Homo sapiens: one gene and its partners. The gene in region 1 interacts genetically with each later gene. Each region holds a gene or a part of one and is shown in the gene's direction. Other genes may lie near its edges. The genes, in order: FASN, HTT, NOSIP, PTAR1, ATAD2, TADA1 and RAB2A.

What was found.
Region 2: changes in FASN (region 1) and HTT together harm fitness less than expected from each alone (positive genetic interaction), as found in Homo sapiens cells (one large-scale study listed by BioGRID).
Region 3: changes in FASN (region 1) and NOSIP together harm fitness more than expected from each alone (negative genetic interaction), as found in Homo sapiens cells (one large-scale study listed by BioGRID).
Region 4: changes in FASN (region 1) and PTAR1 together harm fitness more than expected from each alone (negative genetic interaction), as found in Homo sapiens cells (one large-scale study listed by BioGRID).
Region 5: changes in FASN (region 1) and ATAD2 together harm fitness more than expected from each alone (negative genetic interaction), as found in Homo sapiens cells (one large-scale study listed by BioGRID).
Region 6: changes in FASN (region 1) and TADA1 together harm fitness less than expected from each alone (positive genetic interaction), as found in Homo sapiens cells (one large-scale study listed by BioGRID).
Region 7: changes in FASN (region 1) and RAB2A together harm fitness more than expected from each alone (negative genetic interaction), as found in Homo sapiens cells (one large-scale study listed by BioGRID).

Annotation. Positions count from the first base shown.
Region 1 is NC_000017.11:82,084,737-82,088,236, reverse strand, and holds part of FASN (fatty acid synthase), read left to right. Parts: coding exon 1-121; intron 122-202; coding exon 203-283; intron 284-375; coding exon 376-552; intron 553-732; coding exon 733-912; intron 913-983; coding exon 984-1,187; intron 1,188-1,678; coding exon 1,679-1,983; intron 1,984-2,365; coding exon 2,366-2,755; intron 2,756-2,834; coding exon 2,835-2,999; intron 3,000-3,080; coding exon 3,081-3,202; intron 3,203-3,283; coding exon 3,284-3,438; intron 3,439-3,500. UniProt on the Homo sapiens protein: Fatty acid synthetase is a multifunctional enzyme that catalyzes the de novo biosynthesis of long-chain saturated fatty acids starting from acetyl-CoA and malonyl-CoA in the presence of NADPH.
Region 2 is NC_000004.12:3,203,681-3,207,180, forward strand, and holds part of HTT (huntingtin), read left to right. Parts: intron 1-326; coding exon 327-468; intron 469-2,815; coding exon 2,816-2,995; intron 2,996-3,126; coding exon 3,127-3,303; intron 3,304-3,500.
Region 3 is NC_000019.10:49,570,557-49,574,056, reverse strand, and holds part of NOSIP (nitric oxide synthase-interacting protein), read left to right. Parts: intron 1-3,500. UniProt on the Homo sapiens protein: E3 ubiquitin-protein ligase that is essential for proper development of the forebrain, the eye, and the face. Catalyzes monoubiquitination of serine/threonine-protein phosphatase 2A (PP2A) catalytic subunit PPP2CA/PPP2CB.
Region 4 is NC_000009.12:69,712,019-69,715,011, reverse strand, and holds part of PTAR1 (protein prenyltransferase alpha subunit repeat-containing protein 1), read left to right. Parts: 3' UTR 1-2,993.
Region 5 is NC_000008.11:123,319,350-123,323,447, reverse strand, and holds the end of ATAD2 (ATPase family AAA domain-containing protein 2), read left to right. Parts: intron 1-381; coding exon 382-510; intron 511-2,272; coding exon 2,273-2,314; 3' UTR 2,315-3,598; downstream 3,599-4,098. UniProt on the Homo sapiens protein: May be a transcriptional coactivator of the nuclear receptor ESR1 required to induce the expression of a subset of estradiol target genes, such as CCND1, MYC and E2F1.
Region 6 is NC_000001.11:166,873,465-166,877,585, reverse strand, and holds the start of TADA1 (transcriptional adapter 1), read left to right. Parts: upstream 1-1,321; 5' UTR 1,322-1,352; coding exon 1,353-1,426; intron 1,427-4,121. UniProt on the Homo sapiens protein: Probably involved in transcriptional regulation.
Region 7 is NC_000008.11:60,593,487-60,596,986, forward strand, and holds part of RAB2A (ras-related protein Rab-2A), read left to right. Parts: intron 1-3,500.

The DNA of each region.
Region 1 (3,500 bases):
ACTGGCTACCTGAGCATAGTGTGGAAGACGCTGGCCCGCGCCCTGGGCCTGGGCGTCGAGCAGCTGCCTGTGGTGTTTGAGGATGTGGTGCTGCACCAGGCCACCATCCTGCCCAAGACTGGTGAGGGGTACCCCAGGACCAAGGCGGGGGTAGCTGGGGGGCGGGTGCTGCCCTCTGATCTCCAACTCTCCCGCTCTGCAGGGACAGTGTCCCTGGAGGTACGGCTCCTGGAGGCCTCCCGTGCCTTCGAGGTGTCAGAGAACGGCAACCTGGTAGTGAGTGGTAAGCAGGGCCGGTGGCACGGGAGCTGCGGAGGCTGTGCCCGCTGGCCATGCCGCCCGTCCTCAGGCCCTTCCGCACCTCCCTTTCCACAGGGAAGGTGTACCAGTGGGATGACCCTGACCCCAGGCTCTTCGACCACCCGGAAAGCCCCACCCCCAACCCCACGGAGCCCCTCTTCCTGGCCCAGGCTGAAGTTTACAAGGAGCTGCGTCTGCGTGGCTACGACTACGGCCCTCATTTCCAGGGCATCCTGGAGGCCAGCCTGGAAGGTGGGTACTGACTACACTGCTGCCCAAGCCACCGGGGAGGGCGGTCGTCATTGTGGGGACCACAGAGGGCACCCACAGCTAGGCATGCAGCTTGGGAGGGAGCAGAGGGGCCCGGTGGGCTCTGGGAGGTGGCCCCAGGGACCTGGGAGTTCCACAGCACCAACCAGGCCCTGTGTGCAGGTGACTCGGGGAGGCTGCTGTGGAAGGATAACTGGGTGAGCTTCATGGACACCATGCTGCAGATGTCCATCCTGGGCTCGGCCAAGCACGGCCTGTACCTGCCCACCCGTGTCACCGCCATCCACATCGACCCTGCCACCCACAGGCAGAAGCTGTACACACTGCAGGACAAGGCCCAAGGTAGCCCCGCCCCAGCCCCAGCCCAGTGCCCCCACCCAAGTATGCCGCACTCACCCAGCCTGTCCCCACAGTGGCTGACGTGGTGGTGAGCAGGTGGCTGAGGGTCACAGTGGCCGGAGGCGTCCACATCTCCGGGCTCCACACTGAGTCGGCCCCGCGGCGGCAGCAGGAGCAGCAGGTGCCCATCCTGGAGAAGTTTTGCTTCACTCCCCACACGGAGGAGGGGTGCCTGTCTGAGCGCGCTGCCCTGCAGGAGGAGCTGCAACTGTGCAAGGGTGAGGTCCCAGCCCTGCTGGCTTCGGACACCTCTGGCGATGAGGAGCGATCGCCTCCCCTCACGTTGACCCCAGACTTGCTTCTCCACGGGGCCCCCTTTGGGGTCAGCAACCCTAGCCCAACCCTCCGGCCGGAGCTCACGATGGCGGCCTCCCTCCCTCCCCCAGCCCCCAGCCTTCCTCGTCCCTGGTCACTGTTCCTCAGTCTTGAAAGGGTACTTGGGGGCAAAGATGACAGATTCAGCCTAAGGTCACACCTTGGCTAGGCACAGAGTAGCCCCTGCAGCTGAATGCGGCCCCTCACTGCGTCCACAGTGGGCAGGAGTCAGCCTCCCAGTGGTGGGCAGCCCCTTCCTCAACCCTCAGCTATTTCTCATCCTGTGGGCAGAGCGGGGTGGTGGCCCCAGAAGGACAGAGTGGGTCTGAGAGCCCATGCCAGGCAGATGCCCTGGGGCTTTGGGAACACCAGGCCTGCCTCCCTCCCTCCCCAGGGCTGGTGCAGGCACTGCAGACCAAGGTGACCCAGCAGGGGCTGAAGATGGTGGTGCCCGGACTGGATGGGGCCCAGATCCCCCGGGACCCCTCACAGCAGGAACTGCCCCGGCTGTTGTCGGCTGCCTGCAGGCTTCAGCTCAACGGGAACCTGCAGCTGGAGCTGGCGCAGGTGCTGGCCCAGGAGAGGCCCAAGCTGCCAGAGGACCCTCTGCTCAGCGGCCTCCTGGACTCCCCGGCACTCAAGGCCTGCCTGGACACTGCCGTGGAGAACATGCCCAGCCTGAAGATGAAGGTGGTGGAGGTGGGTGCCTCCTGGGCAGCCAGGCCTCTGCCCCGGACATGGTAGGACCCACCCTGACATCAGTTGCAGGAGACAGCACAGACACGGGGCGGGCCCTGGGCGGTGGGTGGGGCCGGCCAGTTCCCTGTGTGGTTCTGTGCACGTGTCCTGTGCGGTCCACACAGCCACCGTGGAGGGTCCGCCCGTGGGCTCCAAGAGGTGCAGCCTAGGCAGGACCCCAGGGACAAGACCAGTGGCATCCATGCGTGCCCATGGCTGGCACCGTCATCAGGTTGACGGGGAAGCCTTTCTGCCAGACTGAGGCCTCATGGACATTTTGCCCAGCCCCAGGTCAGGGGCACCTGCCTGGTGTGGGGCTGATTCCAGAATTCACCCCCTACAGGTGCTGGCTGGCCACGGTCACCTGTATTCCCGCATCCCAGGCCTGCTCAGCCCCCATCCCCTGCTGCAGCTGAGCTACACGGCCACCGACCGCCACCCCCAGGCCCTGGAGGCTGCCCAGGCCGAGCTGCAGCAGCACGACGTTGCCCAGGGCCAGTGGGATCCCGCAGACCCTGCCCCCAGCGCCCTGGGCAGCGCCGACCTCCTGGTGTGCAACTGTGCTGTGGCTGCCCTCGGGGACCCGGCCTCAGCTCTCAGCAACATGGTGGCTGCCCTGAGAGAAGGGGGCTTTCTGCTCCTGCACACACTGCTCCGGGGGCACCCCCTCGGGGACATCGTGGCCTTCCTCACCTCCACTGAGCCGCAGTATGGCCAGGGCATCCTGAGCCAGGTGCGGCCGCCGGGCAGGGGGACAGGGTGGGGGCCGGGTGAGGGCCAGGCGGGCAGGGTGCTGACCACCGCCCCCACAGGACGCGTGGGAGAGCCTCTTCTCCAGGGTGTCGCTGCGCCTGGTGGGCCTGAAGAAGTCCTTCTACGGCTCCACGCTCTTCCTGTGCCGCCGGCCCACCCCGCAGGACAGCCCCATCTTCCTGCCGGTGGACGATACCAGCTTCCGCTGGGTGGAGTCTCTGAAGGTCAGGCCCTGCCCCACCTCCAGGCCCCACCCCACCTCCCAACTTGCCGAGTGTGGCCTGACCCTCCCCGACCCGCTGTAGGGCATCCTGGCTGACGAAGACTCTTCCCGGCCTGTGTGGCTGAAGGCCATCAACTGTGCCACCTCGGGCGTGGTGGGCTTGGTGAACTGTCTCCGCCGAGAGCCCGGCGGGAACCGCCTCCGGTAGGAGCACGGCCCCTCACCACTTCCCCTTCCCCACCAGCCTCCCCATCCCCAGCCTGAGCTCCCCGCCTCTGCCCCCAGGTGTGTGCTGCTCTCCAACCTCAGCAGCACCTCCCACGTCCCGGAGGTGGACCCGGGCTCCGCAGAACTGCAGAAGGTGTTGCAGGGAGACCTGGTGATGAACGTCTACCGCGACGGGGCCTGGGGGGCTTTCCGCCACTTCCTGCTGGAGGAGGGTGAGCCCCCGACACTGCCCTGCCCCTCCCGGGAGACTGCACCCGAAGGCCCCGCAGCAGCC
Region 2 (3,500 bases), on another chromosome or scaffold:
CTCAATTATCAAACATAGCCAGTGTGAGTTCTGAAATAAAGGTGCTGATTGAATGTGCAGCTTTATGGTGGATTTTGCTATTCAGGCAAGCATTTTAATTTTCTGCCTGTTAAATTCTGTTTTCTTTAGTTTTTCATATGTGGTTTATTGTAGCTTAGGAATAGATAACTGAGAGTATATATTACACATACAACATTCTGATATGGCAATATTTAAAACAACTTGTCTGTTTTAGAACTAGAATTAAACATAATCATCTTCAGTATTTTGCAAATAAGCTCACTGCCATCCAGAAACATTGTCAATGCATCTGTTGCTCCTTCTAGAAGACACAGTCTGTCCAGCACAAAGTTACTTAGTCCCCAGATGTCTGGAGAAGAGGAGGATTCTGACTTGGCAGCCAAACTTGGAATGTGCAATAGAGAAATAGTACGAAGAGGGGCTCTCATTCTCTTCTGTGATTATGTCGTAAGTTTGAAATGCCTGTAAACGGGGTTGAGGGAGGTGGGGACCAGGAGAACATCCTGTGTAGATGACACTTGCATGGACCCTCTGGAACCCAGACCGCCCGGTGTCCTGCCAAGCTCCATCGAAACTAAATCTAGAATGAATGTTTACTTCTGCTGTGACATATAATTGGAGACCAGGCCTGGCCTTCCAGTCACTGGATTCTAAGTTGGACTGTGAGAGTTTTTGCAGCTGACTCATTTATCAAATGCCCGGCTATTGGCTCACGCCTACATGATGCTGGGTATGTTTGTTAATTTGAGGGAAGCAATGGAATAATAATAACTAATGATTTAAAAAACAAAGTAAGTGCATTGACTGTAGTGGGGTTCTGATTTTAAATTTTTTTAAAAATTAATACCAGGAGCAGTGGCTTATGCCTAAATTCCAGCAACTCGAGAGGCTGAGGTAGGAAGATCACTTGAGCCCAGGAGTTTGAGACAAGCCTGGGCTATGGTGTGAGACACCCATCTCTAAAAAAATAAAAAATAAAAAATTATCCAAGTGTGGTGGCTCGTGCCTGTAATCACAGCTCTTTGAGAAGCTGAGGGCGGAGGATGGCTTGAGCCTGGGAGTTCGAGACCAGCCTGGCAACACAGAGAAACCCTGCCTCTACCAAAAAAAGAAAGAGAGGAAGAAAGAAAAATTAGCCTGGCGTGGTGGTGCATGCCTGTGGTCCCAGCCACCTGAGAGACTGAGAAGGGAGGATTGCTTGAGCCCAGAAGTTTGAGGCTGCAGTGAGCTGTGACTGTGTCACTGCACTCCGGCCTGGGTGACAAGGCGAGACCCCTGCTCTAAAATAATTTTTTTAAGTTAATTTGTAGAAAAGGTGTTAGATGTTCTTTGTCACATTTTATGATGGATTCCTGTTTAAATGCCGTTCTCTTTAAAGAAAAAAAAATAACTTGTGGGAGTTTTTAACCATAAAACTAGCATCACATATTTACCATGGAGAATTTACAAAAAAACAAATAAACGGAGGAAAATAAAACCTCCTGTAATCATACTACTCAGAGATAACTTGCTGTTAGATTTTGGTCTAGATTTAATACTTTTTCTATATTTATATTAAAAATATTTAAAACATATGCATTTCTTTGTCACAAACATGGTATCTTATAGATACTACTGTCACATAGCAAAACAGTGTTAAATATTCTGAATCAGAAAAGGAAGCCGACTCTCCAACTGAAAGAGGTGTTATCCTAGAGACTTTTTCTGGTGATGACAATTTATTAATAGTCACTTTTTGCTTTACTTTCTCTATTGAAGTAGTTTTTCTATTTTGTTCTACTTTTAAGGATAATATAATTTATAATGCTGTTTTTCACAGAAATATAAGAAAAAAGATACTAATTTTATAAGTTAATAAAGTTTGATCATCCCAAATCCAAAAATCTGAAATCCAAAATGCTCCAAATTCTGAAGCTTTTTGAGTGCTGACATTATGTTCAAAGGAAATGTTCATTGGAAGGTTTCAGATTTTCGGATTTAGGGAGCTCAACAAATAAGTATAATGCACATATTTCAAAACCTGAAAAAAATCCTAAATTCAGAATACTTCTGATCCCAAACATTTCAGATAAGGGTTATTCAACCTGTACTGTCAGATGATCCCAAATGAAAAATATTAATCGTTAACCAAATATCAAGGAATTGATCACATTTTACAGTTTCTGCCTAGGATTATGAATCAAGATGAAAAGGCTCTGCATGTTTAAAAATATATATTTTTATTTTCTTATAAATCTTAAATATCTACACTTAAGATTTATTTGATATGTGGGATCCATTCATATTTTGGATTCAACAGTTCTGTCAAAACTGTGGCAGTGATAGGGGATTCTTTTTTTCCCACTGAACTATCACAAAATTGGAAAAAGAGTAATTGGAGAACCCCACTGGCTTAGCCGGCCCGAAGCCCGGGAGAGGGCAGGCAGTGCTGTGGATGGGGTCATCCCAGCGCAACGCTGCCCCTGCTACCTGCGGATCTCGCTGAGGCCTGCCTTTGTCCTTTGACCCTTGGCCATTTGTTAGTGTCTCTGAGAGCTGGACTGCTGTACCCTACTTCCCCAGGGGGCCTAACTTCACACAGCCTCTGCCGCAGTGCGTGGTTGGAGGTGACGGCCTTGGTAAATCGAGTTTCCTACCTCCTCAATTATTTGTGCTCATACACTGTATATTTTTAGTGAGGTTTATATTTGGGATGTGTTTTCTCCTTCTTACCCTTTCTGGCCTTTCTATGGCATTAATACCTGGTCTCTTCTTGTGTACTTGAAAATGAATCTCTCATCATATTTTTCCTTAGTGTCAGAACCTCCATGACTCCGAGCACTTAACGTGGCTCATTGTAAATCACATTCAAGATCTGATCAGCCTTTCCCACGAGCCTCCAGTACAGGACTTCATCAGTGCCGTTCATCGGAACTCTGCTGCCAGCGGCCTGTTCATCCAGGCAATTCAGTCTCGTTGTGAAAACCTTTCAACTGTACGTCTTCATCCTGCCGACTATTGCCAGTTGCAGTTTTCCCTGCCTTAAAAATGGAGTATTGAAATTTTTAACTTTAATTTCTGATTTGCAAAATAGTCATCTTTTGTTCTTTTCCTTCTTGCTGTTAGCCAACCATGCTGAAGAAAACTCTTCAGTGCTTGGAGGGGATCCATCTCAGCCAGTCGGGAGCTGTGCTCACGCTGTATGTGGACAGGCTTCTGTGCACCCCTTTCCGTGTGCTGGCTCGCATGGTCGACATCCTTGCTTGTCGCCGGGTAGAAATGCTTCTGGCTGCAAATTTACAGGTATTGGGAAGAGAAACCCTGATATTGATTTATATTGAAAATTTAGCAGGCCAAGCAAAACAGGTGGCTGGCTTTTTCCTCCGTAAGTATGGTCTTGACATGGTCACCGATAGAAACATGGAAACATCTGCAAACTTGCCGTTACTCGTGTGTCCGATCTGACTGTTTCTTGTATTTTTTTCTAGTCTGCCCTTACT
Region 3 (3,500 bases), on another chromosome or scaffold:
AACCCCGTCTCTACTAAAAATACAAAAAAAGTATCTAGGCATGGTGGTGTGTGCTTGTAATCCCAGCTACTTGGGAGGCTGAGGCAGGAGAATCACTTGAACCTGGGAGGTGGAGGTTGCAGTGAGTCAAGATCGTGCCACTGCACTCCAGTCCGGGTGACAGAGTGAGACTCCGTCTCCAAAAAAAAAAAAAAAAAAATACTTCAGTCCTGGTGACAGTGAGACTGTCTCCAAAATAAATACATACATACATACATACATACATAAAATAAAATAAATGGGCAGAACGTGGGGAGGTTGTCATGAGGACCGAATGTGTTCACATGTGGAAAGTGCTTCCCACAAGGTCTGATTCTTAAGGGGTTGAAGGATGTGATGATTACTTCTGTTCTTCCAGTGCTTCTGTGATTCACATGTTACTAATGAATTATTAGTGTATTAATGGCATGATGTCATGGCTGCATGGTTAGTTCATTGCTAACCCACCTCCCCTGGCCCTAGGATTGGAGGTGGTTCATTGATTCTATCATGACATCTCTGAGACCTCCCAGGTGCCAGGCAATGCTGGGACCCAGGCTGAAGTTCAACCCAGGCCCCACCAACCAGGGCCCCTACTCTGGAGCCGAAATACCGAGGGACGGGCTGTAACGGAGGTAGCTCAGGGCACGGTCAAGTGCAAGGAGAACCTAACTGATCCCGGAGAGGCAGGCTTCTTGGAGGAGGCAAACCTTGGCAGTGCTCTGGAGGAGAAAGGAGACAGGATTTCAGGGGAGGACAAGACACACACTAGCTGTCTGATCCACTCCCAGAGTTCAGCACAGTGCCTGAGGCCGCCTGCAGCCAGCTGGCACAGTGGATGGTCAAAGCCACAGGTGCTTGGATCAAACACAGCTGTAGGACTCACTAGCTGCATAACCTAGGGCACCGCCTCTGTGCCTCTCTTCATTTATAGCAACTATTTGAGGTGCTGTGATATTCAGTGGAGTGTTGTGATATTCGACCGTTTGAGGTGTTATGATATTCAGTAAAATGCTTAGAGCCAGGGTCTGCTTCAGAGCCGGGCTTTTTTTTTTTTTTTTTTTTTGAGACACAGTCTTGATCTGTTGGCCAGGCTGGAGTGCAGTGGCCCGATCTTGGCTCACTGCAACCTCTGCCCCCAGGTTCAAGCGATTCTCCTGCCTCAGCCTCCCGAGTAGCTGGGACTACAGGCACCTGCCACCACACCCAGCCAATTTTTGCATTTTTAGTAGAGACAGGGTTTCGCCACATTGGCCAGGCTGGTCTTGAACTCCTGACCTCAGGTGATCTGCCCGCCTTGGGCTCCCAAAGTGCTGGGATTACAGGCGTGAGCCACTGCTCCCAGCCATATATATATATATATTTTAAAGTATCTCCAATGAAAATTTAGCATCTGATGGCCAGGCCAATGTGGTGAAACCCCATCTGTGCTAAAAATACAAATATAAAAATACAAAAATGAGCTGGGCATGGTGGCACACGCCTGGAATTCCAGTTACTTGGGAGGCTGAGGCAGGAGAATGGCTTGAGCCCTGGAGGTGGAGGTTGCAGTGAGCCAAGATTGCACTATTTTGCACTCCAGACTGGGCAACAGAGCGAGACTCTGTCTCAAAAAAAAAAAAAAAAAAAAAAGGCTGGGTGCAGTGACTCATGCTTGTAATCCTAGCACTTTGGGAGGCTGAGGCGGGTGGATCACCTGAGGTCAGGAGTTCGAGACCAGCCTGCCCAACATGGCGAAACCCCATCTCTACTAAAAATACAAAAAATTAGCCAGGCATGGTGGCGGGTGCCTGTAATCCCAGCTACCTGGAAGGCTGAGGCAGGAGAATCACTTGAATCGGGGAGGTGAAGGTTGCAGTGAGCCGAGATCACACCACTGCACTCCACCCTAGGTGATAAAAGCGAAACTCCATCTCAAAAAAAAAAGAAAAAAAAAAGAAAATTTAGCATCTGAATTACTGAAATTACTGAGATGTGCTGAAAGAGTAAAATACATTCTGGATTTCAAAGGCTACAAATAAAGGAATGGATTGGCTTTTTTTTTTTTTTTTTTTTGAGACAGAGTCTCACTCTGTCGCCAGGCTGAAGTGCAGTGGTGCGATCTGGGCTCACTGCAACCTCCACCTCCTGGGTTCAAGCGATTCTTCTGCCTCAGCCTCCCGAGCAGCTGGGACCACAGGCGCGCACCAACACACCCAGCTAATTTTTGTATTTTTAGTAGAGATGGGGTTTCACCATGTTGGCCTGGATGGTCTCAACATCTTGACCTTGTGATCCACCCGTCTCAGCCTCCCAGAGTGCTGGCATTACAGGTTTAAGCCACCGTGGCCAGCCTGATTGGCCTTTTTTCTGAGATTGTGACTTTCCTAGGAAAACTGACAGTTGTCACCTAGTTAAAAGGAATGGCTCCAGAGCCTGGCTGCCTGGGTCTGAGTCCCAGCTCTGCCATTTCCCAGCTGGGACATGCTGTGAGCCTGTTTCCTGTGCTGTGAGGTAGGGATTATGCTGACATCGGTCGCTCCTGCTCTTTGCCTGTTTCCTCTCTGAAATGCTGGTGACAGCAGATGGCAGCAGTCTGCTTTGTAGTTTGAAATTGGACCTACCAAAGAGACAATATAGTGTGGGGCAGGAGAGCTCAGCTTTCAGAGTTTGTAAATCCTGAAACTGGCTATTCTTCCACCCTTGGTTGGAGGCGCTCACGCTTTCTGGTCTCAGGATCTTAAAAATCACTGAGTTTTAAAAATCAAAGAGTTTGCCGGGTGCAGTGGTTCATGCCCGTAATCCTTGCACTTTGGGAGGCTGAGGTGGGCGGATCACTTGAGATCAGGAGTTCAGAACTAGCCTGGCCAACATGGTGAAACCCTGTCTCTACTAAAAAATACAAAAAAAAAAAAAAAAAAATTAGCTGGGCGTGGGCGCCTGTTATCTCAGCTACTTGGGAGTCTGAGGCAGGAGAATTGCTTGAACCCAGGAGGTGGAGGTTGCAGTGAGCCGAGATCACACCACTGCACTCCAGCTTCGGCAACAGAGCAAGACTCCATCTCAAAAAAAACAAATTAAATTAAAAAAAGTTTAAATGCTCCCTCTATAGGTGTTCCTCCTATTTTTGGAGGGAAAATGTCCCCATCTATGTAGAAACCTCAGTTCTTGGCCACAAAACAGCAAGCAAGCTCATCTCTGGGAAAGCCGAGGTGCCCAGAGCCAAATACTGCAGAGGGTCAAGGGAGTTGACAACTAAGAATAGAGTGGGGAATGTGTCCATGAAAAGGTCACCGTGACCTTCATGAGTGGCAGTTGTGGGGGCTGGGGAGCGGATGGCAGGTGAGGGGAGGCAACAGGTGTTGGACGTTCACTGAGAAGCTTGGGGGTCAGGGGGAAGTCGGAGGAGGAGCCTGGCATGTGGAGGGGACCCTGGGTCAAGTTGGGGTGTTTGATCAAGGTCGCCCTTCTGCAAGCAGCCCTGGCTGCCTCAGGGGGCACAT
Region 4 (2,993 bases), on another chromosome or scaffold:
TAATCATCTGAAGAAATTCTTTGATTTCAGTGACTTACTGATCTGTACCTGTGCACATATCATTTTATGCTTCTCCTTTTTTCCCCGCAACTTGAACTGTGACTCTTTCAGATATTTCTTAAATCTGTATGAGTCATTTTTTAAGCTTAGGGATTTGATATGTATTAATGTCCCCTTTGTCTTCTGTAGATTTTAGCATTTTATTACCTCTTAAGAAACTCTGGGCCCAGACTTTCAGTCATATTTCTTATTCCTATGGTACAGTTCTCACTTAAAGGCTTAATTATTAGTAGGGTTAAATATATACAGGTTATCTCTAAAAGTACTTAAATTTTTAAATAAGGGCTTATGTGATACAAGATACGGAAACAAAAGTTTTTGGATTTTTATGCAGTAGTTTGCAGGAAAGCAAATACATAGTAGATCGTATGCCACTTAGGTATGTTCAGGTCATGCCAGTTTATTCTTGTTGGGCCACACACACATGTATGTGTGTGTAAAAGGAATTTTTAGTATTGAAGCAAACAAATTGTCAGTTTAATAATTTTCTCTTACATAGCACAAGATGGCAGATACCACCTACTGTACAACAATCTAATAATCCCTACCTTAGTTCCCCTGAGTTATAGAAGATGCTAAAGATTTAGTTGTAAAGGGAAGTAACATGATTTTTTTTTTCTAAAAAGCTGTTTTAAGCTAACTATTATTTTGCTACTGGAAAATTATATTTTAAAACTTACAGATATTTAAAGTATGCTAGAAAATTTGAACCTGATAACAACTGAACCTTTTGTCTTGAATAAATTTCTCAAATAGAACTGTGCAAACCCTAGCACTTTATGTGTTGCTGCCTCCCCATACCTAGGTATGCTCTGTAATAAGCTCCCATTTAATGGAGAGATGTGTGGAGGCACTGAGAAGTTAATGAAGAAAAATCAACCCTAAGAATTCCTTATTGTCACATAGTGTCTTTTAAAAAATAACTGTAGAGACTGTGTTAATTCGAGTGCCTTTCTTACTTTTTTGGGAGCAAGATTATATTTAATGTTTAAGAAAACAGGATGGAAGTTTTATCAAACAGTTGATTGTGGCCCATTGTTTTATTTATTCCCATCGCTAGGCATGGCCCCGTAGGGTATTTTATCCTTCAGTGAGAGACTGATATAAGCAGGCAGGATGCTTTGATTATTCCATTAGTTATCATTTTAAGCACCCTACCAAGATTTAGTTCTTTCTTTCTGGCAACTAACGTTTTGGGGGTTGGAGGCATCCCATTTAGAGGATGGTGTGTGCACAAATAGATTAGCCTGAAACCTGCGTCCAAAGGGAAACAGTGGCACTCTGCCCTAAAATAAAGGCCAGAACGTTGTCCTAAATGAATCCTTTGCCTTACTTTAGGACCTTCCTTCCCTCTCAAATTCAGGCATAATGTAATATAGTTGAAAGGGGGAAAACAGTACTTGCTTTCTCTCAGGTATTGGAGGAAAAGAAGTAAATGCGTAGATGAAATTTTAAATGTATCATTTTATCTGTTTGTATATGGAGAAGGGAGGGATAGGAATTCCATATTTCAAGATAGCAAATATAATTTCATAGAAATATATAGCTAAAGATTCCAAAGTGCTTTTACAGAGAACTGTTGAATAATATATTCCTAAAGGGCAGCAATATGCCATGTTCATGGTGAAGACAGAAAACCAATGAATCAGTTGTGGATCTCAGGTGGGAGAGGAAACCTCAGGCTCCCAACTTTGACTTCTCTACTCTCACCAGGCCATGTTAACACTGTAAAACCAAACTCTTTGCTAAGAACAATACAGGGCAGTAGTTTAGTCTGCTGATGAAACCTTGTGCTTCCAAGAATATTAGCTATATATAATTTGTGCTTTCTGGATGATTCTATTGTCCAGAAAGCTAACCCTGACGTTACTTTTATTAGTCTGTTGTTATTCCTCAGGGTGTAGAAGATTTAGTAAATTCAGGACAAATTTTATATTCAGTGGCAAAAAGAAAAGGCAAAAATATGCTAAATATATTATTAGCTCTTAAATTTTAGTATAGATCGTATTTTTTATAAACTATTACCAGTACAGTAGCTAGTAGATATTCTGTGACTGCCTCATTGTTTATCTTGCTGCTTTGGTCCCTATGGCTCTAGTATGAACATTCTCGTGTCTTCTGTGGAAATGATTTCTGTGTTATAGTTCCATCTTTGGTAGAGGTGGGGATGATTGTATTTTGTTTTAGTTGACATCATTCTCAACTTTTAGAAATACTGTTGAGGAAAATGATTACCGTTGGTTTTCAAATTGACAACTATTTTGCTTCCAAAGACTTCAGTTTCCCTTTGTTTTATGTGTAGACCTCATATATGTTCAACACATTGCATACTGCCTTGCACATTGTAGGAATTCAACAAGTCAAGAGTTGATAAAAGCTAGAAAGATAAAACTAGCTTAGCTATCATATCATCATTGTCCATATTCTTAGCTTTGGGAAAAATATACCATTTTGCATAAAATACATAATCAGTTTCAAATGCATAAGGCAAAGATATACAGTTGCACAACATTGCAAGTGAAATTTACAAAGGATTTTTATTTTTGTGTATGCTAAAAGTGCTCCTACTTAAAGCAGTTTTCTTTATTAGACCAACACCTTCCAGCAAAGTTAGAAACCAAACACAAGTGCTCATTTGCCCAAATTAACCAGATAGTTATGTAAACTGTTCATATTAAGTCTTTAGTGGTTTACAAACAATAACATTCTGGCTTTTCTTCCATACCTTTTAGGAATCAGCCTTAATTTTAAGTATAGCAGTCACTTTCCTCAAGGTACTATGCAGCATACTTTAGATTGCTTATTTATCATTATAAGGTGATAGGTAATAAATTTGAGGTTTACTTGTCATATAATTTCATATGGCAGATATTGATTCAAGGAGCATTCTATTAGAAAAAGTTGATAAATTATCCTCCCTTACAAATATCATC
Region 5 (4,098 bases), on another chromosome or scaffold:
TTTAGTTTCACATAATAAAATTAGTTAAAATGTACTTATACTATCATAAAATCCCCTGCAAAAAAACTTTGCTTTTCTCCTGTTAATCTAAATTGAGGTTAGTTTTTAATTTGTTTGTAGATGCTTATGGCTAGACTTAGAATTGGCAATCCCCTCAGCTCTAGTTTTTAGAATATGAGTTACTCAAGGTCAAGGCCAGGATTATAGCTAGACTTAAGTACATTTAAATGTCAGAGCCACTGCCAGAGGCTGCCCTGTGTCATCAGATGGCTTGGTCTACCCTCTGTCAGGCTTGTAATAATTGCCCAAACCTTCTAAATTAAGTATCTTGTCTGAGGAAGTTTCTCTCTCACACATATTGACACTCATATTTTCTTTTAGAATCTTTTGAAGACTGTTGTTAAAAAAAGTCAAAACTACAACATATTTCAGTTGGAAAATTTGTATGCAGTAATCAGCCAATGTATTTATCGGCATCGCAAGGACCATGATAAAACATCACTTATTCAGGTAAACTCTTGAGTGGAAACTTTTTACAAATGCTCTTGTGGTCACATTAATATATCACTTATGTAGGATTGTTGAGGCTTTATTTAATCTGTGTAAGAAACTGATTGTAGGAACTTAAAGACCATCTTTCTATTTCCAAAGTTGATGTCCCATTCCATAAAGATCATTTTTAATATGTGGATTATGAATTATTTCTAAATGCAAGTGAGTTTAGTATTTTTCCAATCTATAACTTAATTAGTTTGTTTGTTTATTTATTTATTTATTTAGAGACAGGGTCTCTGTCGCCCAGGCTGGAGTGCAGTGGTGCGATCTCAACTCACTCACTGCAGCCTCCACCTCCAAGGTTCAAGCGATCCTCCTGCCTCAGCCTCCCAAGTAGCTGGGACCACAGGCACCTGCCATCATGCCCAGCTAATTTTTGTGTTTTTTGTAGAGATGAGGTTTCACTATGTTGCCCACGCCGATCTTGAGCTCCTGAGCTCAAGCCATCCAGCCACTTCAGCCTCCCAAAGTACTGGAATTACAAACGTGAGCCACTGCACCCAGCCAATAGTTTGTGTCTTTAATAAATAGTGGAACATAAACTATGAATACCCCTTTTGTGTGTATGTATTAATGAAGAATAATAGCTTCTTTTAAGACTTGTCAGCCAGGCACAGTGGCTCATGCCTGTAATCCCAGCACTTGGGGAAGCCAAGGCGGGTGGATTGCTTGAGCCCAGGAGTTCAAGACTAGCCTGGCCAACATGGTGAAACCCCATGTCTACTAAAACAACAAAAACTAGCCAGATGTGGTGGTGTGCACCCATAGTCCTAGCTACTCGGGTGGCTGAGGCATGAGAATCACTTGAACCTGGGAGGCAGAGGTTGCAGTGAGCCAAGATCAAGCTACTGCACTCCAGCCTGGCTGACAGAGTAAGACTCTGTATGACAAAAAAAAAAAAAAAAGACTTATGTACTTAATCTTCCTTTATAGTAGGTATTATAGTGTTAATTAGAGCATTAATACTTATTTTTGAGACAGGATCTTTCTCTGTGTGCAGTGGCAAGAACATAGCTCACTATAACCTGGAACTCCTGAGCTCAGGCAATCCTGCCTCAGCTTCTCAAGTAACTGAGATTATAGGCAAGCACCACCACACTGGGCTAATTTTTAAATTTTTTGTAGAGATGGAGGTTTTGCTATGTTGCCTAGGATGGTCCCAAATTCGTAGCTTCAAGCGGTCCTCCCGCCTCAGCCTCCCAAAGTGCTGGCATTAACAGGCAGGAGCCACCATGCCTGGCCTTATTATTATTTTTAATAACAGATCATTTCACTAGAGAGTGCTAAATTTTAAAAAAAGATATTACTTACATATGCATATTATTGGTAACTACAAAATATAAAAATGATAACCATTAGTATATATATAGTATTTAGTATACCTACTAAAGTATACTATGTAGTATATATATAATATTGATACCTACAAAGTGTAAAATACTAAACTCTAACTACATCAGTACCTTGATTAATACTATTTGAATTTAACATAAGATGAATGCACCCCAGACTCATTTCAAAGTTATTTAAATAATGAAGTCCTACAGGTAAAATCTATGTGGCAGTCTTAAATACTGAACTGAATGTTTATTTTCACTATCAAATATATACCTGAATATTAATATTCTTAAGGTTGTTTACTGAAAAAGTAATGAAATGTTTCTTTAGCTTATTCCATATTGAAACTTACTATTTGCTCTTCCTCCCCTTTATCTAGAAAATGGAGCAAGAGGTAGAAAACTTCAGTTGTTCCAGATGATGATGTCATGGTATCGAGTATTCTTTATATTCAGTTCCTATTTAAGTCATTTTTGTCATGTCCGCCTAATTGATGTAGTATGAAACCCTGCATCTTTAAGGAAAAGATTAAAATAGTAAAATAAAAGTATTTAAACTTTCCTGATATTTATGTACATATTAAGATAAATGTCATGTGTAAGATAACTGATAAATATTGGAACTTTGCTAGAACAAGACCCTGTAGTAATAGTAATAATAGTTGAAGTTTGGCCAACTCTTAATAAAGTTATTTTGGTAACTAATGTTTTATGGCACTTAAGAATAATTAGCAGCGTTAAATTTTGTTTGTATTAAGCACTTTTAATTTTATCCTTCCTAAAAATAGTTTATTGTATCTGACAAGAAACTTACTTAACCATTGTGTCCTTCCCATCTTTTTTGTCATCTTTGTTTTCTTCAAATGCCCTCCTCCCATCTGCCTTGAGATTCCCTCGTCTTCACTTAAAAGCCAGAGTGCAAGTCATGATTTGCGGGAGGGCTCTTGAACCACTTCTGGCTGCACCACAATTCTGTACTTGAGTATCACAGTCATTGTTTTTGAGACAAACATTTTTATAATTCTAATTTGGGTTAATAAAGATTTTAAATATTTCTTGGTTTACTTTTGTAATTATATACACAACAAATGTATTAATAACTACCTTGTTAAACACCTTTTAATAGCACAAGGTTTTTATATTTGCAAGCTGTTGATATCTTTCTAAAACTGTTTAGGTTATAGTCTATTGATACTTTTTATATACAATTTTATAAATATAAATATTATAATTTTATATTAATGGTACCAAAAATACATTTCTTAAGGTTAAAAGCATGCACTTCCATGCATACTTGCTTTTGGGGAGAGTGGGGAGAAGACATTCTAATAATCAGTTTGTGAAATAGCTTCTGTTGGAAACCTTTTGAGGGGAATAAGGAATGGTCATCTAAAATGAGAGATTCTGGATTTTAATGCAGTTCAAAGTTGAGCTGTATTTTTGTTGTTGATTTATCTGGATTTTTTTTAAAGCCTTCTAAAACCCAGTGAATTCAATACCTTAATTAGTACATACTATCTTATGTAATGCATAAAGCAATGCCAGTCACTGAGAACATTTAAATATATTTATATTCCTGGAGATACACATTCTCATTTTTGTTGGTTTATTATAAATTATTCTTCTAGATGCATCTTTTATAACTAGGATTTCATTTTGTGTGTATAGCTTATGTAATAAATTTTAAAGGTGAAAACTCTCTTAAATTTGTTTCTATTTCTTAAGTATTTTAAAACATAGCAAAGATAATTCTGTGCAAAAGAAGTGTAAAGTCTGTTCTTTCATATATTACTGTGAAAATTTAAAGTGCTGTTGACACTGGAATGTTTTTATATGGTACATGTATTTTAGGTACAACGACTAAAGTGCTTCCTGAAATGTCTTCTACAGATTTTAGAAGTGTTATGTCTACATTCCTATGTAGAGTTTGAAAACCATGCTGAAATTGCAGTGTTGAATGTTATCTCCCATTTGTTGCTCAAAAGTGCAGTTAACGCAAGAAAAACAAAAGGAACTCAGAAAGGAAAAAGTGAAATTCTCTTTATTTACAAATGCCATGATTTTATATGTAGGAAATCCTTTTTTGAGACAGAGTCTTGCTCTGTCGCCTAGGCTGGAGTGCAATGGCATGATCTCGGCTCACCACAACCTCTTCCTCCCAGGTTCAAGCGATTCTCCCGCCTCAGCCTCTTGAGTAGTTGGGACC
Region 6 (4,121 bases), on another chromosome or scaffold:
TTACCCAGAGTTTTGACACAGAGAGGAAGACTTTGCCTGACCTTTGTATCTCCTTTCACCTGTGTATCTCCAGTACTCAAAGAGTTCCAGACACATAATAGGAGCTCACTGTATGAATTCAAGTGAAGAGAAGGTGCCCGGCTGGCATTGCAGCCAGGACAGGGCTTGTGGGTTTAGGTTGGGCAGTGAGGAAGTTGAATGAATGAACTTAAGGGGACATCTTTGGAGAAATTACACAAGATCTAAAAGCTATCTAGGATTATTTAAAAAACTTTGGGAGGCAATTTGACAATATACACCAAGGCATTTATAAATATTCCCATCATTTGATCCAGTAATTCTATGTGTGGGACTCTATGCTAAAGTAATAATCCTAAAGGAGGAAAAGTTTTATGCATAAAGAAGTTTTGCTTCATTATGCTATATGCTTCAAAAGCAATATTACAGTATTGCTTTTTAATAGAGAAGAAATGGACACAGTCTAACAATTGGGAAACAAGTTGTGTACCTTCTATCTGTGGGGGTATTTAATATGTTGTCATTAAAATTATTCTAAAGACAATGTAATACTACAGATAAATCCTTAAGTTTAAAAACGTGCAAAATTGAACATAGAATATTTTAAGTCATGGGAGTGTGCGAAGTGAAGGAGAAATCTCTCTCAGTTAAGTGTTTGTCCGGGAGTGGTAAAACACTTTTTCCTTCTTTTTATCTTTATCTTTCTGTGTATTTTCCAAATTTTACATAGTTACCTCATTTACTCAAATACTTATTAAGCATCCACTATGTGCCAGGCGCTGCTCTAGAGAATTGCGGGTAACAGTGAATAAAACACAACTCCTGTCCTCGAGCCATAACATTTACAAGATAAATCAACTAAATGTCATATGAGACGGTTAGTGCTCGGGGAAAAATAAGGCAAGGAAAGAGTAAAACTGATACTGCATTTACTTTTTTAAATGGAGGGGTAAGGTACTCCTCCAGGCAGAAGAACAGCAGGCTGAATTCGGAATTGCCCCAGCGGTAACAGAATGAAAGAGCTTGGGACACGCCAGCCTGTCAGCAACGTTGCAGCCGAGGCGGGGCGCGCGGGTTTAGGATGGGCGCGCGACAAGGTGAAGCGGATCACGTGACTCGAGGGGCGGGAGGAAGAGAGCAGAGTTTGGCCGGGCACCTTCCCTGCGAAAAGGCGGGCGGAGCCGAAAACCAAACAAACGACTTCTGAGAGATTGGGGGCGGGACTGACGGCGGCCGGCTTAGCTTCCAGAGCCAAGGCCTTCCGCCGAGTTGGTTTTTGGGTTGTTGATCGCGGTGGCCGGGCGGTCTGCGGTCGGGCTGAGACACGCGGAGCAATGGCGACCTTTGTGAGCGAGCTGGAGGCGGCCAAGAAGAACTTAAGCGAGGCCCTGGGGGACAACGTGAAACAGTAAGAGCTGCCCTAGCACAGCGTCCAGGCCAACACGCGGGTGCTCTCCTGGCCTCGGGCTGCCAGCCCGCCCCGGAGACGCCCGCGTCGCCCGGGGGCCTGTGCAGCCTGGAGTCCGCGGCGGCGGGGCTTCGGGGTTTCTCCGGCCGGGGCGGGGCGGGCCACCTGAACTCACCGCCCTGGAGAGACCGGGCCTCCTGGGCGCCCGGGAGACATCGGCGGGCGCCGTTGCTCGGGACTGTCTGCCCTGGGTGGGGCGGGAGAAGCGCACTTCGCACCCAAGGGCCTGCTGAGCAGGTGCGGGCCCCAGCGCGGGCGTGCGGGATGCGGGAGGCTGACTTGGGCGGAGTGAGCCGGAGCCCTACGCGTCCAGCCAGAGGGCATAGCGCAGGGCGGCCCGCCCCTGGAGGGCTTCCTGGAGGTGGAGGCCTGTTGAGCTGGTGTGATCTGCTACGGATTATTGGTAAGCTCTTTTGACAGCAATTTCGTAAGGCAGACGGACCCTCTGGTGAAATCACAGTCATTGAACACTACAATTATAGTGATGATAGCAGTAGCGGACATTTTAAACATTTTAAGCTCTCTAAATATATTATCTAATCCTTACAACAGATGTGAGATAGGTACAGTTGTTATTCCCATTTGACAGATGAGAAGACTGAGACCTAGTGCGGACAAGTAACTCTTCAAAAGTCACTGTCAGAGTTGGGACCCACGCTTTTGATTCCCGACTGATGCATTAGAGGGGCTGTAAAGGATCCCAGAGACGCTCAGCCAGACCTTCATCCAGGTTATGGCAGGGGACCTAGTGCACAGTCAGGTTAGGTGCAGAATGGCCAAGGGTAAAATCAGTATCCAGTCAAAGCCAAAGCCAAAGAGCAAAAAAGGAACCTCTGGGATACAAGGAAGAGTTTGGAAATTTTCAAAACGTTGTTATTACAACTTTATTTTTCAAAAATATAGGAAGCAAATATAAACGTTTAAAATTACAGTGCCTGTGTTGTTGCTGCTAGATGGCTTCTCTGGTATTCTACACATTTGCATTACTCAGTGGATGCATACTTTTAAATGATGTTGGTGGAGGAGCAATTTGGGAATACTTAATTTTTCTCCAATACTTTCTTTTCATCCTTCTCTGTTCTTTATTATTACTGGATTGAAATTACTTAGGTTGGATGTCATACATGAATTTTGGAGTTTTTCCTTCATGTGAAATTTTGGGGTGGCAGAGTTGACAGTCTACTTTTCATCCTAACAAGATAATAATGGAAACTATAAAAAGATTAAAATTAAAATCTAAACTGTTATTTTAGCATAATTATTTAATTTTTGGTGAACATTTATTTACGCCCAGAGATATGTTTCACTTTGTGTTTGGGGGTTGGGGTCTTGCTCTGTGGCAGAGGCCGAAGTACAGTGGCCTGATCACACAGTTCACAGCAACCTTGATCTCCTGAGCTCAAGAGATCCTCCCCTGCTGTGAGCCTATAACTGGGACTGTAGGCACGCCCCGCTAATCCTGGCTAAAGTTTTTTTTTTCAGAGACAAAGTCTTGCTGTGTTGCCCAGGCTGATCTCAAATCCTGGCCTCAAGCAGTCCTCCCGCATTGGCCTCCCAAAGTTCTGGGATTACAGGCATGAGCCACCACACCCGACTATAGTGTACCACCGAAAATTGTCTTTCGATATTGATGTTCACTGTGCTTATTGAATTAAATATTCTTACTTATTTTAATAGGTAAAATTGACAGCTTTCACCCTAATTACTGTAGCTTTTTACTTTTGTAATACCGACTGATAAAATTTACCTTTTTTTTTTTTGAGATGGAGTCTTGCTCTGTCGTCCAGGCTGGGGTGCAGTGGCATGATCTCCGCTCACTGCAGCCTCCACCTCCTGGGTTCAAGCACTTCTCTGCCTCAGCCTCCTGAGTAGCTGGGATTACAGGCACCTGCCACCACGCCCGGCTAATTTTTGTATTTTTAGTAGAGATGGGGTTTCACCATCTTGGCCAGGCTGGTCTTGAACTCCTGACCTCGTGAGCCACCCGCCTTGGCCTCCCAAAGTGCTGGGATTACCGACGTGAGCCACCGCGCCCAGCCAAAATTTACATTTTTAAGCACATAAGGGGCATTTCACTCTGTTCCATCTAGAATGCTTACAAATATTTGAAAGCAAACGTTTACATACCAAAATAAATCTGAAGGACCTGGCTTGTGTATGATTGCCTTTAACCCTGATTAGATGCAATGGTGACCTCTGTCATCCCATACTCATCAGTTACAGGTTCAGGGCTGCCAAAAGTGTTTTTGAAGTTAGCATTCCTTATTTAGTTTTTAAAGGCCAAAGCCGACTGTCTGATGTTGGTCAAATACTGATGCTGAAGCTAAATTTGGTGCATCTGGAGTGTGAATCCCCACTAAAATGCAATCAAAAGAGATTTTTATGCCAGAAACAGTTAATGGTAACGTATAGTTCTAAATTTGTTTTTCCATTCTCTCATTGTTCTTTTCCCTTCTCCTTAAAAAGTACCTCTGGGTTAAATAGTCAGTAATACTCTTGTACTGTACAGTCATTTCTTATATTTCCTCCATGAGCAGTTTGCTTTGGTTTGCACAACCTATTTAAGTGTGGTCCTCGGTGGTAGGCAAAACATACAGGGTTATGCACGGAGGCTGGATATGAGTTATTTGCTATT
Region 7 (3,500 bases), on another chromosome or scaffold:
AAGTAACCATTCTACTGTAGCCAAACATCACAGAAAAAATTGTGGCTCTGCTTCCACAATCCCCAGGCAGTAATGAAGTAGCACCCTACCACCACCATTTCCCTTGTTGGAGTGGAGTGAGAGGAAGCCAACTAAACAGTGGTTTAAATAAGACCCAGAGTCTCATAACATAGTATCTAAAATACCCATGTTTCAATAGAAAATCATTCATCATACCTAGAACCAGGAAGATCTTAAATTGAATGAAAAAAAGATAATAGGTGCCAACAGTGAAATGACAGTGGTGTTTGAATTATCTTACAAAGATTTTAATGCAGCAATCATTAAAATGCCTCAACAAACAAGGAACATGCTTGAAACAGAAGAGTCTTAGCAAACAAACAATCTGAGCAAAAGAAATGCAAGATAAAAAAAAGAACCAAATAGGAATTTTAAAATAAAAAAAAATACAATAATTGAAATTTTAAAACTCTTTCAAAGCTCTTTGTACACTAGAAAAAAAAACTTAGTGAATGGACTCAACAGCAGAATGGAGATAAAGGAAAGAAATAGTGAACTGGATGATAGAACAATAGTAACTACTTAGTCTAAACTGCAGAGAGAAAATTGAGGAAACAAATGAACACTACCTCAGGGACTTATAGGACTGTAACAAAAGCTGACGTTATATGATGCATCATAAGTCCTAGAAGGAGAGGAAAAAGGAATGGCTCTGAAAAATACTCAAAGAAATAATGGCTGAAAACTTCTTAAATGTGGCAAAAAGTATATAAACCTACAGATTGAAGACAGCCCCAAAGAGGTTAAACCCAGACAAATCCACATGATGACGAACCTCTGTATGGTCAAATTTCTGAACGTGAAAGACAGAAAAAAAAATCTTGAAAGCAGCAAAAAATAGCACCCTACGTATAGGGGAAAAACAGTTCTAATGATAGCAGATTTCTCATCAGAAACCATGGAGGACAGAGAAAATAGCACAGTGATTTTTGTTTGTTTGTTTGTTTTTATTATACTTTAAGTTCTAGGTTACATGTGCACAACGAGCAGGTTTGTTACCTAGGTATATATGTGCCATGTTGGTTTGCTGCACCCACCAAGTAATCATTTACATTGGGTATTTCTCCTAATGCTATCCCTCCCCCAGCCCTTCAACCCCCAACAGGCCCCGGTGTGTGATGTTCCCTGCCCTGTGTCCAAGTGTTCTCATTGTTCAGTTCCCACCTATGAGTGAGAACATGCGGTGTTTGGTTTTCTGTCCTTGTGATAGTTTGCTGAGAATTATGGTTTCCAGCTTCATCCATGTCTCTGCAAAGGACATGAACTCAACTTTTTTATGGCTGCATAGTATTCCATGGTGTATATGTGCCACATTTTCTTAATCCAGTCTACCATTGATGGACATTTGGGTTGGTTCCAAGTCTTTGCTATTGTGAATACTGCCACAATAAACATACGTAGCACAGTGTTTTGCAAGAGCAGAAAGAAAAGAACTATCAGCCCAGAATTCTTTACCCAGCAAAGAAAAAAAAGAATTAGCAATGAAGGTGCAATCAAGACATTCTTAGAGAAGGAAAAACCAAGAATTTATTAGTAGCAGATTTGCATAAAAGAATGGCTAAAGGAAGTTTTCTAATAGAAGTGAAATGATTGAAGAAAGAATCTTAGAACACCATAAAGGAAGAAAAAAACATAAGAAACAAAAATATGGATAAATATGATAGACTTTTTTCTTCAAGTCTTGCAAATTATGTTTGATGTTTGAAGTATAAACAAGTAACCACTGTCTGATGTGATTATCAGTGTATTCCACAATATTATAAGCCATGGGGAATAAAGGGATTTGATTAGCCCACAGGAAGGCAGGAGAAGGAAAATAGAAAACAAAGTAAAATGTCAGATGTAAGCCCTCATATATCAATAACTAAATGTTGGTGGTCAAAATACACAAATCAAAAGGGATTAGCAGAGAGAATTTTAAAAACAATGACTTAGCTATATGGTATTTATAAGAAACTCACTCCAAATACAACAGTACAGTTAGGTTGAAAATAAAATGATAGGAAAAGTTATACAAATATTAATCAAAGGAAAACAGGAGTAGCTATATTAATATCACATAAACTTAAGGGCAGAAAAAAATTATCAGAGTGGGACATTATATAATGATAAAAGAATCAGCCCTCCAGAAAGATGTGACAGTGCTAAACATGCGTGTACCAGATATGTGAAGCAAAAACTGATAGACTGCGAGGAGAAATAGAGAAATTCACAATTACGGTTGGAGACTTCAGCATCCCTTAGGTGCTCACAGAATATATACCAAGATAGACCGTGTCCTGGGCCATAAAATAAACCTCAATAGATTTTAAAGTATTGAAATCATACGGAATGTATTCTCCAAACAAAATGGAATTAAACTAGAAATCAGTTTAACAGAAAATAGGAAAATCTACAAATACTTGGAAACTAAACAGTACGCTTCTGTGTGTCAGTGAGCAAGTCTTGAATTACAAAAAACACATTGAACTGAATGAAAATACAACATACCAATTTGTGGAAAATAGCTAAAACAGTGTTACGAGAGGGAAATGTATATCATTAAATGCACACAATAGAAAAGAAGAAGTCTCTTCCTTATACGTTATACAAAAATTAACTCAAGATGGATTAGAGATTTAAACATAAGACCTAAAACCATAAAAACCCTGGAAGAAAACCTAGACAATACCATTCAGGACATAGGCATGGGCAAAGACTTCATGACTAAAACACCAAAAGCAATGGTAACAAAAGCCAAAATTGACAAATGGGATCTAATTAAACTGAAGAACTTCTGCACACCAAAAGAAACTATCATCAGAGTGAACAGGCAACCTACAGAATGGGAGAAAAATTTTGCAATCTATCCATCTGACAAAAGGGCTAATATCCAGAATCTACAAAGAACTTAAACAAATTTACAAGAAAAAAACAACCCCATCAAAAAGTGGGCGAAGGATATGAACAGACACTTTTCAAAAGAAGACATTTATGCGGCCAACAAACATATGAAAACTCATTATTACTGGTCATTAGAGAAATGCAAATCAAAACCACAATGAGATACCATCTCATGCCAGTTAGAATGGCAATCATTAAAAAGTGAGGAAACGGCCGGGCGCGGTGGCTCATGCCTGTAATCCCAGCACTTTGGGAGGCTGAGGTGGGCGGATCACAAGGTCAGGAGATGAGACCATCCTGGCTAACAGGGTGAAACCCCATCTGTATTAAAAATATAAAAAATTAGCCAGGCGTGGTGGCAGGCGCCTGTAGTCCCAGCTACTTGGGAGGCTGAGGCAGGAGAATGGCATGAACCCAGGAGGCGGAGCTTGCAGTGAGCCAAGATCACACCATTGCACTCCAGCCTCGGCGACAGAGTGAGACTCTGTCTCAAAAAAAATAAAAGTGAGGAAACAACAGATGGTGGAGAGGATGTAGAGAAATAGGAACACTTTTAC